2 linked regions of the Homo sapiens genome follow. The protein of the gene in region 1 binds, or shares a complex with, the protein of each later gene. Each region holds a gene or a part of one and is shown in the gene's direction. Other genes may lie near its edges. The genes, in order: BCAS2 and RBM22.

Evidence for each region.
Region 2: BCAS2 (region 1) and RBM22 share a complex: the UniProt entries of both Homo sapiens proteins name them as parts of the postcatalytic spliceosome P complex.

What each region holds. Positions count from the first base shown.
Region 1 is NC_000001.11:114,567,013-114,571,863, reverse strand, and holds the end of BCAS2 (pre-mRNA-splicing factor SPF27), read left to right. Parts: intron 1-1,113; coding exon 1,114-1,164; intron 1,165-1,791; coding exon 1,792-1,872; intron 1,873-3,607; coding exon 3,608-3,734; 3' UTR 3,735-4,307; downstream 4,308-4,851. UniProt on the Homo sapiens protein: Required for pre-mRNA splicing as component of the activated spliceosome. Component of the PRP19-CDC5L complex that forms an integral part of the spliceosome and is required for activating pre-mRNA splicing.
Region 2 is NC_000005.10:150,690,771-150,698,062, reverse strand, and holds the end of RBM22 (pre-mRNA-splicing factor RBM22), read left to right. Parts: intron 1-1,171; coding exon 1,172-1,272; intron 1,273-1,357; coding exon 1,358-1,530; intron 1,531-2,356; coding exon 2,357-2,557; intron 2,558-3,822; coding exon 3,823-3,987; intron 3,988-4,755; coding exon 4,756-4,844; intron 4,845-5,036; coding exon 5,037-5,168; intron 5,169-6,181; coding exon 6,182-6,312; 3' UTR 6,313-7,271; downstream 7,272-7,292. UniProt on the Homo sapiens protein: Required for pre-mRNA splicing as component of the activated spliceosome. Involved in the first step of pre-mRNA splicing.

The sequences.
Region 1 (4,851 bases):
ATGCAAATATGGACTGATATCTCATTCTACAACAGTTTTCTTTTTCTCACCTCTCTCTAGTTAGCAGTAGACAGGAGGAGAGAATGACAAGGTGAATGTATATGCAGAAATATAGAGATAAAAGGGGGTTGAGAAATAAAATAAGTGGGTACTCAGATATATTCCATCTTTTCTATGACAAGAAGTCATGACAGTTTAAGAAGTGACAAAAGGCCGTGTGGCTCACACATGTAATTCCAACACTTTGGAGGCTGAGGTGGGGAGATTGCTTGAGCCCAGGAGTTCAAGACCAGCCTGGACAACGTGGTGAAACCCTGTCTCTACAAAAAAGTAATGAAAATTAGCCGGGCATGGTGGCTTATGCCTGTAATCCAAGCTACTTTGAAGGCCTGAAGTGGGAGGATCAGTTGAGCCCAGGAGGTTGAGGCTGCCATGATTGCACCACTACACTCCAGCTTGAGCAACAGGAGAGCAAGACTCTGTCCCTCCCCTCCGCAAAAAAAAGCTGGGTACAGTGGCTCACGCCTGTTATCTCAGCACTTTGGGAGGCCGAGGCAGATGGATCACTTGAGGTCAGGAGTTCGAGACCAGCCTGGCCGACATAGTGAAACCCCATCTCTACTAAAAAAAAAAATACAAAAATTAGCAAGGCATGGCAGTACATGCCTGTAATCCCAGCTACTTGGGAGGCTGAGGCAGGAGAATCTCTTGAACCAGGAAGCAGAGGCTGCAGTGAGCTGAGATCTCACCACTTCGCTCCAGCCTGGGCAACAGAACGAGACTGTCTCAAAAAAAAAAAAGTAACCTAAGTACTCCAAGATCAGGCAGGGCATGGTAATCCCAGCAGTTTGGGAGGCCAAGGTGGGAGGATTGCAGCTCCTTGGGAGGCTGAGGCAGGAAGATTACTTGATCATGGGAGGTGAAGGCTGCAGTGAGCCATGATCACACCACTGCATTCCAGCATGAGTGACAGTCCTCGATTATGGAGTGTCCAACATAGTTCTTGGCACAGAGCTCCATAAATATGATTTTTGGCAGAAAAACTTGAAAAAGTTCACTTTTAATTGGTACTATTTTAATGTATTTTAATCTGATTTTCCTCTTTTCCTTCAGAAATCTAGTTCATATGATTGAACACGCACAGAAGGAACTTCAGAAGTTAAGGTAAATTGTTTTTTCCTATTACAGAATGAAGTTTAAGTGAACCTTTAATAAATAGAAAATAGGAGGAAAAAGAAAGCAAAGAGACTGCAGCCAGATGAAAGTAAACAATTGATCCACTCTCTTTGTTCAACATCTGACACTGGGTTTGCCCTACCTAAGTAGAGGAGAAATAGGCCTGAGGTCTGAAAACATCTCTGCCACTTGCAGCTTGCAAGTCTGCAAACATAGAAAGGCACTTTTAGAGTGGGAAAAGTTGCAGAATAACACATATAATCTGATTTTTAAAACCAATTTCTACACACACATATAGGAAAGCCTGGAAGGACACCCAGCAAAAACTCAACAGGAGTTATCAGGAAAAAGGAGACATGCATGAGAGGGGGGACTTGAGACTTGTAATCTGTGTGTGCTTGTGTGTGTGTGTGTGTGTGATTTCTCACAATGAGCATGTTTTATGAAACTTGTAATCAAAAAATAATTAGAAGAAAGGTAATTTCTACAGTTAGCCTATAACTGTACATAATATTGTTCTCATGGGATTAAGATATTCTCTTGTGTTATAGAGTTTTCTGTTGATTTAGGTCTTACATTAAAATGTAATTGGGTTGTATAAATAATTTTTTACAGAAAACATATTCAAGATTTAAACTGGCAGAGAAAGAACATGCAACTCACAGCTGGATCTAAATTGAGAGAAATGGAGTCAAAGTGAGTATCTATAATTCCATCATCTTTTAAATTGTTTAGCCCTTTCTAAGGTCGATTCAATAATATGATTCAAATAGCATTCAAATGGGATGCCACAGGTAACAAAGAAATGCTATTTTCTGAATTCACCCTTCCCCGTCTCTGCCTCTTTATAAGGTGTTAAAGAGAACTATAAACGAGAATTGAACCATTGGCGAAGGATCCTTTGCTAAATTGAACCATTGCTAAAGGATTCTGGTCTTAGAATACCCTGTTTTTAGTCTAGTATTTTTGGCCTTGAATAGAACTCTACCTTTATTCTCCTTTTAAACGGAAAAAAAAAAAAAATAGGCACGGTGGCACATGTCTGTAGTCCCAGCTACTCTGGAGGCTGAGGCAGGAGGATTGCTTAACCTGGAAGGTTGAAGCTGCAGTGAGTCATAATCACACCACTGCACTCCAGCCTGGGCAACAGAGCAAGACCTAGTCTTTAAAAAAAAAAAAAGGAAAAAAATTATTTTATAAAATCTTGTAGGGAGGGAGATTTCATACTTGGTAATTTTTTTGTACCTCAGGTTTATGCATTTTTAAAAATGTTCTTTTACATACACACATGTATACCTTTATACAATATAATCTTGAATATTTGTGTCATTTCTCTCTTCCTTTTTGCTTGGCCATTCCCTTTCTCCCTTCATTACTCAAGTCATTCTTGTTCCACCGTCTCCATGTACGTCTTACCAGTCTCGTTGGTACCCTTTCACGCTTTTTCCTCAATTTAATAAACTATTGCCTCTTTCCTTTTTGTTGATTAAATACTATCTTCATCACTCTTTCCTCTTTCTTCTGGTTTGCAAGTTCTCTCATCTGTTTCTAATTTGCTTTTTTATTAAACTTTTATTTTTAGATAATTATAGATTCACATGCAATTGTAAGAAATAATACAGAGAGCCAGGTGTGGTGACTCACATTGTAATCCTAGTGCCTTGGTAGGCCAAGGTAGGAGGATTGCTTGAAGCCAGGAGTTCAAGCCAGCCTGGGCAACATAACGAGACCCTGTCTCTACAAAAAAATGCTTTTAAATGAGCCAGGCATGATGGCATGCACCTGTAGTCTAAGCTCTTCAGGAGGCTGAGGTTGGAGGATTGCTTGAGCTCAGGAGTTCCAGGCTAGTGAGCTGTGATCACACCACTGCATTTCAGCCTAGGCAACAGAGCAAGACCCTGTCTCTGGAAAAAAAAAAAAAAAAAAAAAAAAGAATACAGAGAGATTCCATGTACCCTTTACCTACTTTTCCACAATTGTGCCTTGATTTTTTTTTAATGGAAAGTTGAAAGTGAAGGTTAGGCCAGGCATGGTAGCTCATGCCTGTAATCCCAGCACATTAGGAGACCGAGGTGGGTGGATCACCTGGGGTCAGGAGTTTGAGACCAGCCTGGCCAACGTGGTGAAACCCCATCTCTACTAAAAATACAAAAAAGTAGCCAGCTGTGGTGGCGTGTGCCTGTAATCCAGCTACTCGGGAGGCTGAGTCAGGAGAATCCCTTGAACCCGGGAGGCGGAGGTTGCAGTGAGCTGAGGTTGCGCCATTGTTCTCCAGCCTGGGCAACAAGAGCGAGACTCCGTCTCAAAAAAAAAAAAAAAGTGAAGGTTAGTGTTATAGCTCTGGGTGAACATGTGTATACATTTAAAATAAAATCTTCTAAGAGAAGTTTTACATTGAGTAATTTTTTTCTTTTCTTCCCCCCCATTCTAGTTGGGTATCCCTGGTCAGTAAGAATTATGAGATTGAACGGACTATTGTTCAGCTAGAAAATGAAATCTATCAAATTAAGCAGCAACATGGAGAGGCAAACAAAGAAAACATCCGGCAAGACTTCTGAAAAGACAATTTAGCAGGTAGAAGAAAAGTTGGGCTTTCACAAAAGGCATCTGAACTTTTAATGAACTTTGAAGGACAACAGCATCTTCCCAAAACCATTGATGTTTAAGTGTTTAGAAATCATAGAAGGTGTAGGCTGCTGTGGTAATTCTATTTGTATATCTCAACAGAATTAAAATGTCTAGCTTGGTGGTATTTTTATAGCCATAAAAGAAAATCTTTAGGCTTTCAAAATAAGGATGACTTTAGAATAATATTGTGTCATAGAATTAATTTTCAGCCATGTGGACCATATTTTGTATCCAAGGATCCTTATTTAAAGCTTTCAACATGTACAGGAAGTTGGAAATTTTTGGTTTATGACTTTGTCTAATAAAGAGATAGTTCTAAACACATTCTTGATCACCAAACAACTTCAGAAAGACAGTGACTGTACAGTTATCATTATCATCATCATCGTCATCATCATAGGTAACAGTTATATCAAGCTTAATATGTGCTGAACATTGTTCTGAACACTTTAGGTAGATGAACTAGATGTATGTGAATAAAAATTATTTGGTCCTCACAAAAACCTCAGGAGGCGGTTACTGTTTTTCTCATATGTGGACATGTAACAGACACCAGTTAAATAACATAACTTGCCAGAGTTTTATAGCTGAAAGTGTCAGCTTTTTTATAGAAAGTTGTCAGTCAGGTTTTGAACCCAATAGTCCAGCTCCAGAGTTAATGTTCTTACTTCTCTACTTGTAAGGAATTAAATTGTGTAAAAGATTCCTGCCCAATTCAGAAAAAATATTTGCAACATATCAAAAGGTAGTGTTGCTAGGTGTGGTGGCTCACGTCTGTAATCCCAGTGCTTTGAGAGGCTGAGGCAGGAGGATCACTTGTGTCCAGGAGTTCAAGGCCACCATAAGCTATGATTGTGACACTGCACGCCAGCCTGGGTGACAGAGCAAGACCCTGTCTCAAACGAAGCAAGGTAGTCTTAATGTATAAAGACTGACTGAAAATTATTGCAAGGTCAGTGGCTCACACCTGTAATCCCAGCACTTTGGGAAGCTGAGGTGGGCAGATCACGAGGTCGAGAGATCGAGACCATCCTGGCCAACATGGTG
Region 2 (7,292 bases), on another chromosome or scaffold:
GCAACTTCGAACTCCTGGGCTCAAGGGATCCTCTTGCCTCTGCCTCCTGGTATACCACCACACCCAGTGCACGTGTGTGTGTGTGTCACTATTTTGCCCAGGCTGGTTTTGAGCTTCTGGCCTCAAGCAGTCCTCCCACCTTGGCCTCCCAGAGCCACTATAGCCAGCCTAATTGTGCTTTAGACTTTTATTTCAATTGTGTTGTTAGAACTGATATATTGCTACTGTTTCAGAGTAACTGCTTTTGGGAGTAATTTTTTTTTTAACCATAGGTGACTGTTTTTCAGAAAGATAATTTTTCAACAAGAGTTTTTACTATTAAAGGAAAGGGAAAAATATATGAGTTTATGTATGTTAAGTTCATTAGAGTTACTCTTCTAGTCAGAGTCCTGGCCACATTTTATGTAATATTATTTATATGTTTGTTAAGGAGGCGTCTGGTCCTGGAGTACAGTGACCCTTAGATGACTGTGACTATCCAGAGGATCTGTAAGACTAACCTAGAAAGAAACCACTTTTACATTTACTTTAAATAAATCATGTTGTAATAAAAACTAGGAGCTAATTTACAGGTTGAATATGACCATGGGCACAGTTTGTTCATCTAAAAATTTTCTTTTATAATTTTTTTGTTTTTTGTTTTTGAGACAGGGTGTCACTCTGTTGCCCAGGCTGGAGTGCAGTGGCATGGTCATGGCTCACTGCAGCCTTAACCTTTCCAAGCTCAGGTGATCCACCTCAGCCTCCTGGGTAGCTAGGACTACAGGTGCATACCACCACACCCAGCTAATTTTTGTATTTTTTGTAGAAATGGGGTTTCACCACGTTGACCAGGCTGGTCTCGAACTCCTGGACTCAAGCTATCTGTCAGCTCCAGCCTTGCAAAGTGCTAGGATTACAGGCATGAGCCACCACACCCAGCCTAAAAGATTTTTTCTAAAGCATTAATTTCATCAAATTTCCTGACAGTTCAGGAATTTGGACAATTTCTTAGCATGCTGTGTAGCAGAAGTAACCTGATGGTGCTAAAGAGTTTGAATAAAAACATAGTAAAGTCTCTGGTACTAAATAGGAAAGAGGAGAAGGGAAAGATGATGTATTCTGTGTGCATGGTTAGTATGGATATGTTTTAAAATACATCTGAGGTCTTTTTCCTCTTTTTTTGTACCAGGCCTGCCCATCCAGGTTCGTGACGCAGGATTGTCTTTTAAAGATGACATGCCAAAGTCAGATGTCAACAAAGAGTACTATACACAGAATATGGAGAGAGAGGTATGCTGCCACTTTTTGGATAAAAATCCTAATGAATTGACACAGTCTGTATAATTTATCTTTTGAATTTGTCATCCCCACTTAGATTTCTAACTCTGATGGAACACGGCCAGTTGGCATGCTGGGGAAAGCCACATCTACCAGTGACATGCTGCTCAAACTGGCCCGGACCACACCCTACTACAAAAGGAATCGACCCCACATTTGCTCCTTCTGGGTGAAAGGAGAGTGTAAGAGAGGAGAGGAATGTCCATACAGGCAAGAGCGAGCCTCATTTTCAGTATTTGCTTTCAGATGATTTCTCATCTAAGAAGTGGGAGGTCCTAACTTAAACTGTTTCTGCTTTAAAATCTAAAGGTCATACAACTAATGTGGTATACCTCATGTCTTAGAACTATGAAATTTAGAAGAGCATGAATAAATTGTAGTTTTTACTTACAATTGAGCCTTGGAAACTAAATTGCTATGCCATACAATATAGATGCTGACCCTAAACATTTCTGCCTGAGAAGTAAATCTTCACTGCCATGGTTTAAATGAGTTGACTCTCAATGTATAGTTGAAGTCAAAGTAAGGTCAGACTTCTAAAGGGTGTGTATGTTTTGGTTAAGACTGCCAAGCATCTGGATTAGGAGTTCTTAATTTGGGATTGGTTAACCCCACCCCCTAAAAAATAATGTATGTGCTTTCTCTGGGGCGAGGTTCATAGCTTTAATCAGATTCTCAGTGGAATACAGCACCCCAAATGTGTTAAGAATCATTGACCTAGAGAGGGGTAATCATGTGTCCCTTTCTGGGGGGCGGGAGGGGGTGGATCATGTCAAGAGTATTTATTTATAAGGAAAGTTTGGCATCCTAGATGGCCTAATGGCTTTTAGGAGGCTAGTAATTCCTTCCGTGATACAGTAAATCTCTTGGTATTAGGTCTATTTTGGTAATTATATTTTGGTAGAAACCATAGTTTCTAGTTCAAAAGGCACTTCAGAATATGTATCTAGGACTTTAATATGTAGCTACTCTTGGAAGATAATCATTTTTTCACCTTCGTTTCACCTTTATGCCTTGTTTTTTTCTTGAATCATAGACATGAGAAGCCTACAGATCCAGATGACCCCCTTGCTGATCAGAATATTAAAGACCGTTATTACGGAATCAATGATCCTGTAGCTGACAAGCTTCTAAAGCGGGCTTCAACAATGCCTCGGCTGGACCCACCAGAGGATAAAACTATCACCACACTATATGTTGGTGGTCTAGGTGATACCATTACTGAGACAGATTTAAGGTTTGTGGGTATAAGTTAGAGAGTTATTTTTGCCTTTAACTGCCCTGGAATAATTTATTTGCAAAAACTGCAAGAATGATCATTCTGTACAAAATACATTTTTCTGTAGTCTCTCTATTGTTAGTATCATGCTGACTGGAATTTTTGTAAAATTGTCCTTTATGGTGCCACAGTAATAATGTGCTTATGTGGCTGGGCACAGTGCCTCATGCCTGTAATCTCAACACTTTGGGAGGATCTCTTGAACCGAGGAGTTTGAGACCAGCCTGAGCAACATAGTGAGACCACATCTCTACTAAGAAATCAAAAAAATTAGCCGGGTGTGGTGGCATGTGCCTGTAGTCCCAGCTGTTTGGGAGGCTGAGGCAGGAGGATTGCTTGAGCTTGGGAGATCAAGGCTGCAGTGAGCTGTGATTGCACCACTGCACTCCAGCCTAAGCAACAGAGTGAGACCCTGTCTCAGAACCAAAGCTCAAAGAGTGCTTATCCATCCTGGCATATGGTAATAATGACATAGGATTCTATTTGACCTAACAGCCAAGTTTTAAAGGATGGCACGCATCCAAGTATGATGAATTATGTAGAGGAGGGAGAGCTTTGCGATGATAAAACTCTTGTGGTTTAAATTGTTGGTTTTTAAAGAGACTGGCATTTGATAAATTTGTGTTATTTTTGGCTTGTATTATGCTTGGCTAGATGAGACTTCTGGGCAGATAGTAATGGAAATTACCTCTTCCAAAGAGATAAAGTGGAGAAGAAACTCCTGTAAGTTTATAACCTGCCCTTGGTAGCCTGTCTCCATTAAACCCTATCTAAGTGAGCTAGACAACCCCCAGGGGTTGGCAGACTTTCGCTGTAAGAGGCTGGATGGTGAATATTTTAGGCATTGTGGGCCACATGCAGTCTCTGTCACGTATTCTTGTTTTAAACTTTCTTGGCTCATGGGCCTTGAGAGCTATGGTTTGCCAACCTCTTATCTAGGGTTTAGGGTCTTTAAAGAACCTATTAGAACCCCCTTTCCTCCATGGGAAAAAACCCTGAGATGTTTGAGAACCTTTATTTACTCATTATTTTTCTTTCCTTCTCTCAATCAGCAGCACCCACAGTAGGACAAGATATGGGGTGGAGACCTGCGGGTAGTTAGGCAGATAACCTTGGGGCCCACCTGCCTAGTGGTGTGTCAGTGAAAGTTAATCCATTTTCAGTCTCCTGGGTACATCTTTTTTAACTCCCACTTTCATTTTTCTCTGCCTGTTTCCCTTCAGAAATCATTTCTACCAGTTCGGAGAGATCCGGACGATCACTGTTGTGCAGAGACAGCAGTGTGCTTTCATCCAGTTTGCCACACGGCAGGCTGCAGAAGTGGCTGCTGAGAAGTCCTTTAATAAGTTGATTGTAAATGGCCGCAGACTGAATGTGAAATGGGGAAGGTGAGAATTAAACTATTTTTAAGTGACATTTTGCTTAGATTTTTAAGAAACTATTTCATTTTCTGGAGACTAGTAGGCTTTTGGTTAACAGGCTTAAATGAACAGGATCTTTAAAGAGATCTTTCAAAGATCACTCTCTATGTGATACTTGATTCCTGTGGATGTTGGGAGAACCCTGCTTTGGAAATGTATTCAGGGGGTTGGTGTATAATCTACTCCTTTGAAGGTTCATGTTTTTGTGACTAGCTATTATAGGCCAAGTATAATGCCAGGCCATGAAAGGTGAATTTTAGGGTTTATAAATGAATTAGACCTAGATTCTGCCCTTAGAGGCTGATTGTCCAGTGGAGAAGATAAAACAGGGAAGAATCGCTATTTTAAGTTTAAAAGTGATGATTGCATAAGAGAGACACAGGTGAAAGACCCAGTTCAAAGGGGGAACATGTCTCCAACTTGGAACCAGGGAAGTGATGGCTAATAGCAGCATCTGCCTTTGTGGAGCGCTCCCTATGTGGTAAGCACTGTGCTAAACACGTATGTGTTGCCTTTTCTGGTCCTTATGATAGTTCTAGCAGCTTTTGAACCCAGGTCTTTTCTGGTGTCAAAACCTTTGCTCTTGTTCACTGTGCACAGTGGCATTTATGGGAAAAGAGTGTGTGCTGAGGAGGAGGTAGAGCGAAGGAACTCCATTGGACTGGGGAATGTAAGAAGCAGAGGTGTGAGATAAGGTGGGCCAGAGTGCCGACTGTATGCATGTGTGTTTCCCAGATCCCAGGCAGCCAGAGGAAAAGAAAAAGAGAAAGATGGAACTACAGACTCTGGGATCAAACTAGAACCTGTTCCAGGATTGCCAGGAGGTGAGTGCAGACTCCCTGCTGACTTCAGAAGCTCTTTCTGCCCTGATGTTCCTATTTTGGAAGATGGGACCCAGGTCTGGTTCATGTTGCCGCTCTACTCTCCCAGTAGGACCTCTGAGAATGTAAAGGTGGTAGAAACAGCGTTGCACAATTGTTCTCCCCTCTATGTGTTGACTATTTTCTCTCCTCCAGCTCTTCCTCCTCCTCCTGCAGCAGAAGAAGAAGCCTCTGCCAACTACTTCAACTTGCCCCCAAGTGGTCCTCCAGCTGTGGTGAACATTGCTCTGCCACCGCCCCCTGGCATTGCTCCACCCCCACCCCCAGGTAACTTCCATCTTCCTTCTTAGCCCAGAGAAATCCTTGTGAAAGTTCTGTCTCATAAACCTCACCATCATGTTCAACACATCCAAATCCTGTGAGTTTGCTCTGTAGAAGTCTACCAGTAAAGTTGATCTGTTGGGATTTCTGAAATTTTTCTTTCTCCTGCTCTGCCGAGGAGAAGAAAGGGGCCAGTTTTCTAAAGATCCGCGTATATGTGTCAGCAGAGTAAGATTATTAGATTACAAAGATCTATCACCAATTTGTTCCCTTTTCTAAACTAAATGCTAATGGATGCCCTAGAGCACTATTGCCCAGTGTGGGCTGTGAGCGGGTGTCATTTTACAAAGTGTTTATCACCTGTCTGCCACAAGATCAGGAGCTTGTGCCAAAATGTAATCAGTGAACCCCTTCCTTCATTGAGAAAGTCTTGTTACCAAAAAAACTGTCAGATGAACTAAACTGTGCCTGGTCGTATAATTTACATTTTGACTCAAGCTCTTTGTCTTGAGTGGCCAGAAATAGGTGGAGGACTGGCACTTCGTATAGCACTGCTGTAGACAGTGTTAACAGTGGAAGGAAATCACAGGTAGCCAGTTCTCCTGTGGCAGAGAGCCCATACTCTGAAGAGAATCTGGTTTCTGAGCACCCTCCATTCTGGTGTCAAGCATTGAGGTTAATGATGACACAGTCTTTGCCATCAGCCTGATTTCTTTCTTATCTCCCAAATCCTGACTGAATCCTGTCTGGTAGGATTTGGCATGTTGGATACATAGCAGAGACTCAGATGACATACTAGGCGATACCTTGAGTGCTGTGGAGTTTTTTGGACTGTGGGGGAAAGGTTTCTAAAACCAAGGAAATAACAAGTGGAAGTAAGTTTGTGAACTGACATTTGCTTAAGCCCCGTGTCAACCTTGATTTATGTGTAGGTGGTTTTAACCTTAGCAAGATTGAGAGGTTTGAAAGGTTATCAAGGAAACTACCAGCCTAACACATTTGTTCTCTCGTATCTGCAGGTTTTGGGCCACACATGTTCCACCCAATGGGACCACCCCCTCCTTTCATGCGGGCTCCAGGACCAATCCACTATCCTTCTCAGGACCCTCAGAGGATGGGAGCTCATGCTGGAAAACACAGCAGCCCCTAGCACCTTGTCACCACTCTGGGGCTCTGTGGAAGAAAGGGCACTTAAAACTCCCAGTAAATCTTGGAATAAATATATTTTTCCTTCCCTTGTAGTTTCCATGGTAGCTGAATGTGCTCAGATGTGAGCAGTCAGAGACTGACAGCCATGCTTTCCTATACTTGTTCAAAGGATCGATGGACCGTAAATAAGCTGCCATTAACACATCTGGTTACTGCTGTAACATGACTAATAAAACCGAACGCCTGTTCCCCTTACCCGTGTGGGGGACACGCAGATGAGTGAATTGGAATGTCCAGCAGAGTTACCCTCCCAATTATATGTTCATTTTGTATATTTTTTGGTCGGGGGAAAAATTGACCTGCAGTAAAAAAACCTTTGACCATTTTTATGTCCATTGGATACTTTCCTTTTTATCATCTTAAAAAAAGATAACTAGTACTAATCATTGTAGTGGCCTAAGTGTGATTTAACTCTTGAAGTCACACCCTCCGAAAGATGAGTAGAAACCAGCACCAGCACAGCCCAGATCTTCTCTTTCCTCTCCTTTTCCTCATTTATTCCTAAAGGAATCTGACCATTTTACGTCTCTACGGCCCAAAAAAAGACAAAAATAAAAATTCCTTTTTATTCCTGTCAACTGGATGGAAACACAAATTTCATGGAGCTGTGTACCATCGAAGAAACCTGGTGTCTGGCATGAAATTACTGTAAAGAACTTCCTGTAAAACACGTTCTTTAACAAACTGAAATGAAAAGCATTGGAGCGTCTGAATGAAAGACGTGACCTCCTGCTGGGACTCTGATGGTCTTCAGCATTCACCTTCGTGTGTCTTCAGTGTCTCATTGTCATCCCTGCTTCTGTTTGGTCTTAGAGTGTTTGGATATAACTGAATTGTAGATGGTAAAGGAAATTTGATGTGTTTTTTGTTTTTAAATAATTAAAACGGGTCAATTTTTCACATGTTGTCATGGGTTTATTT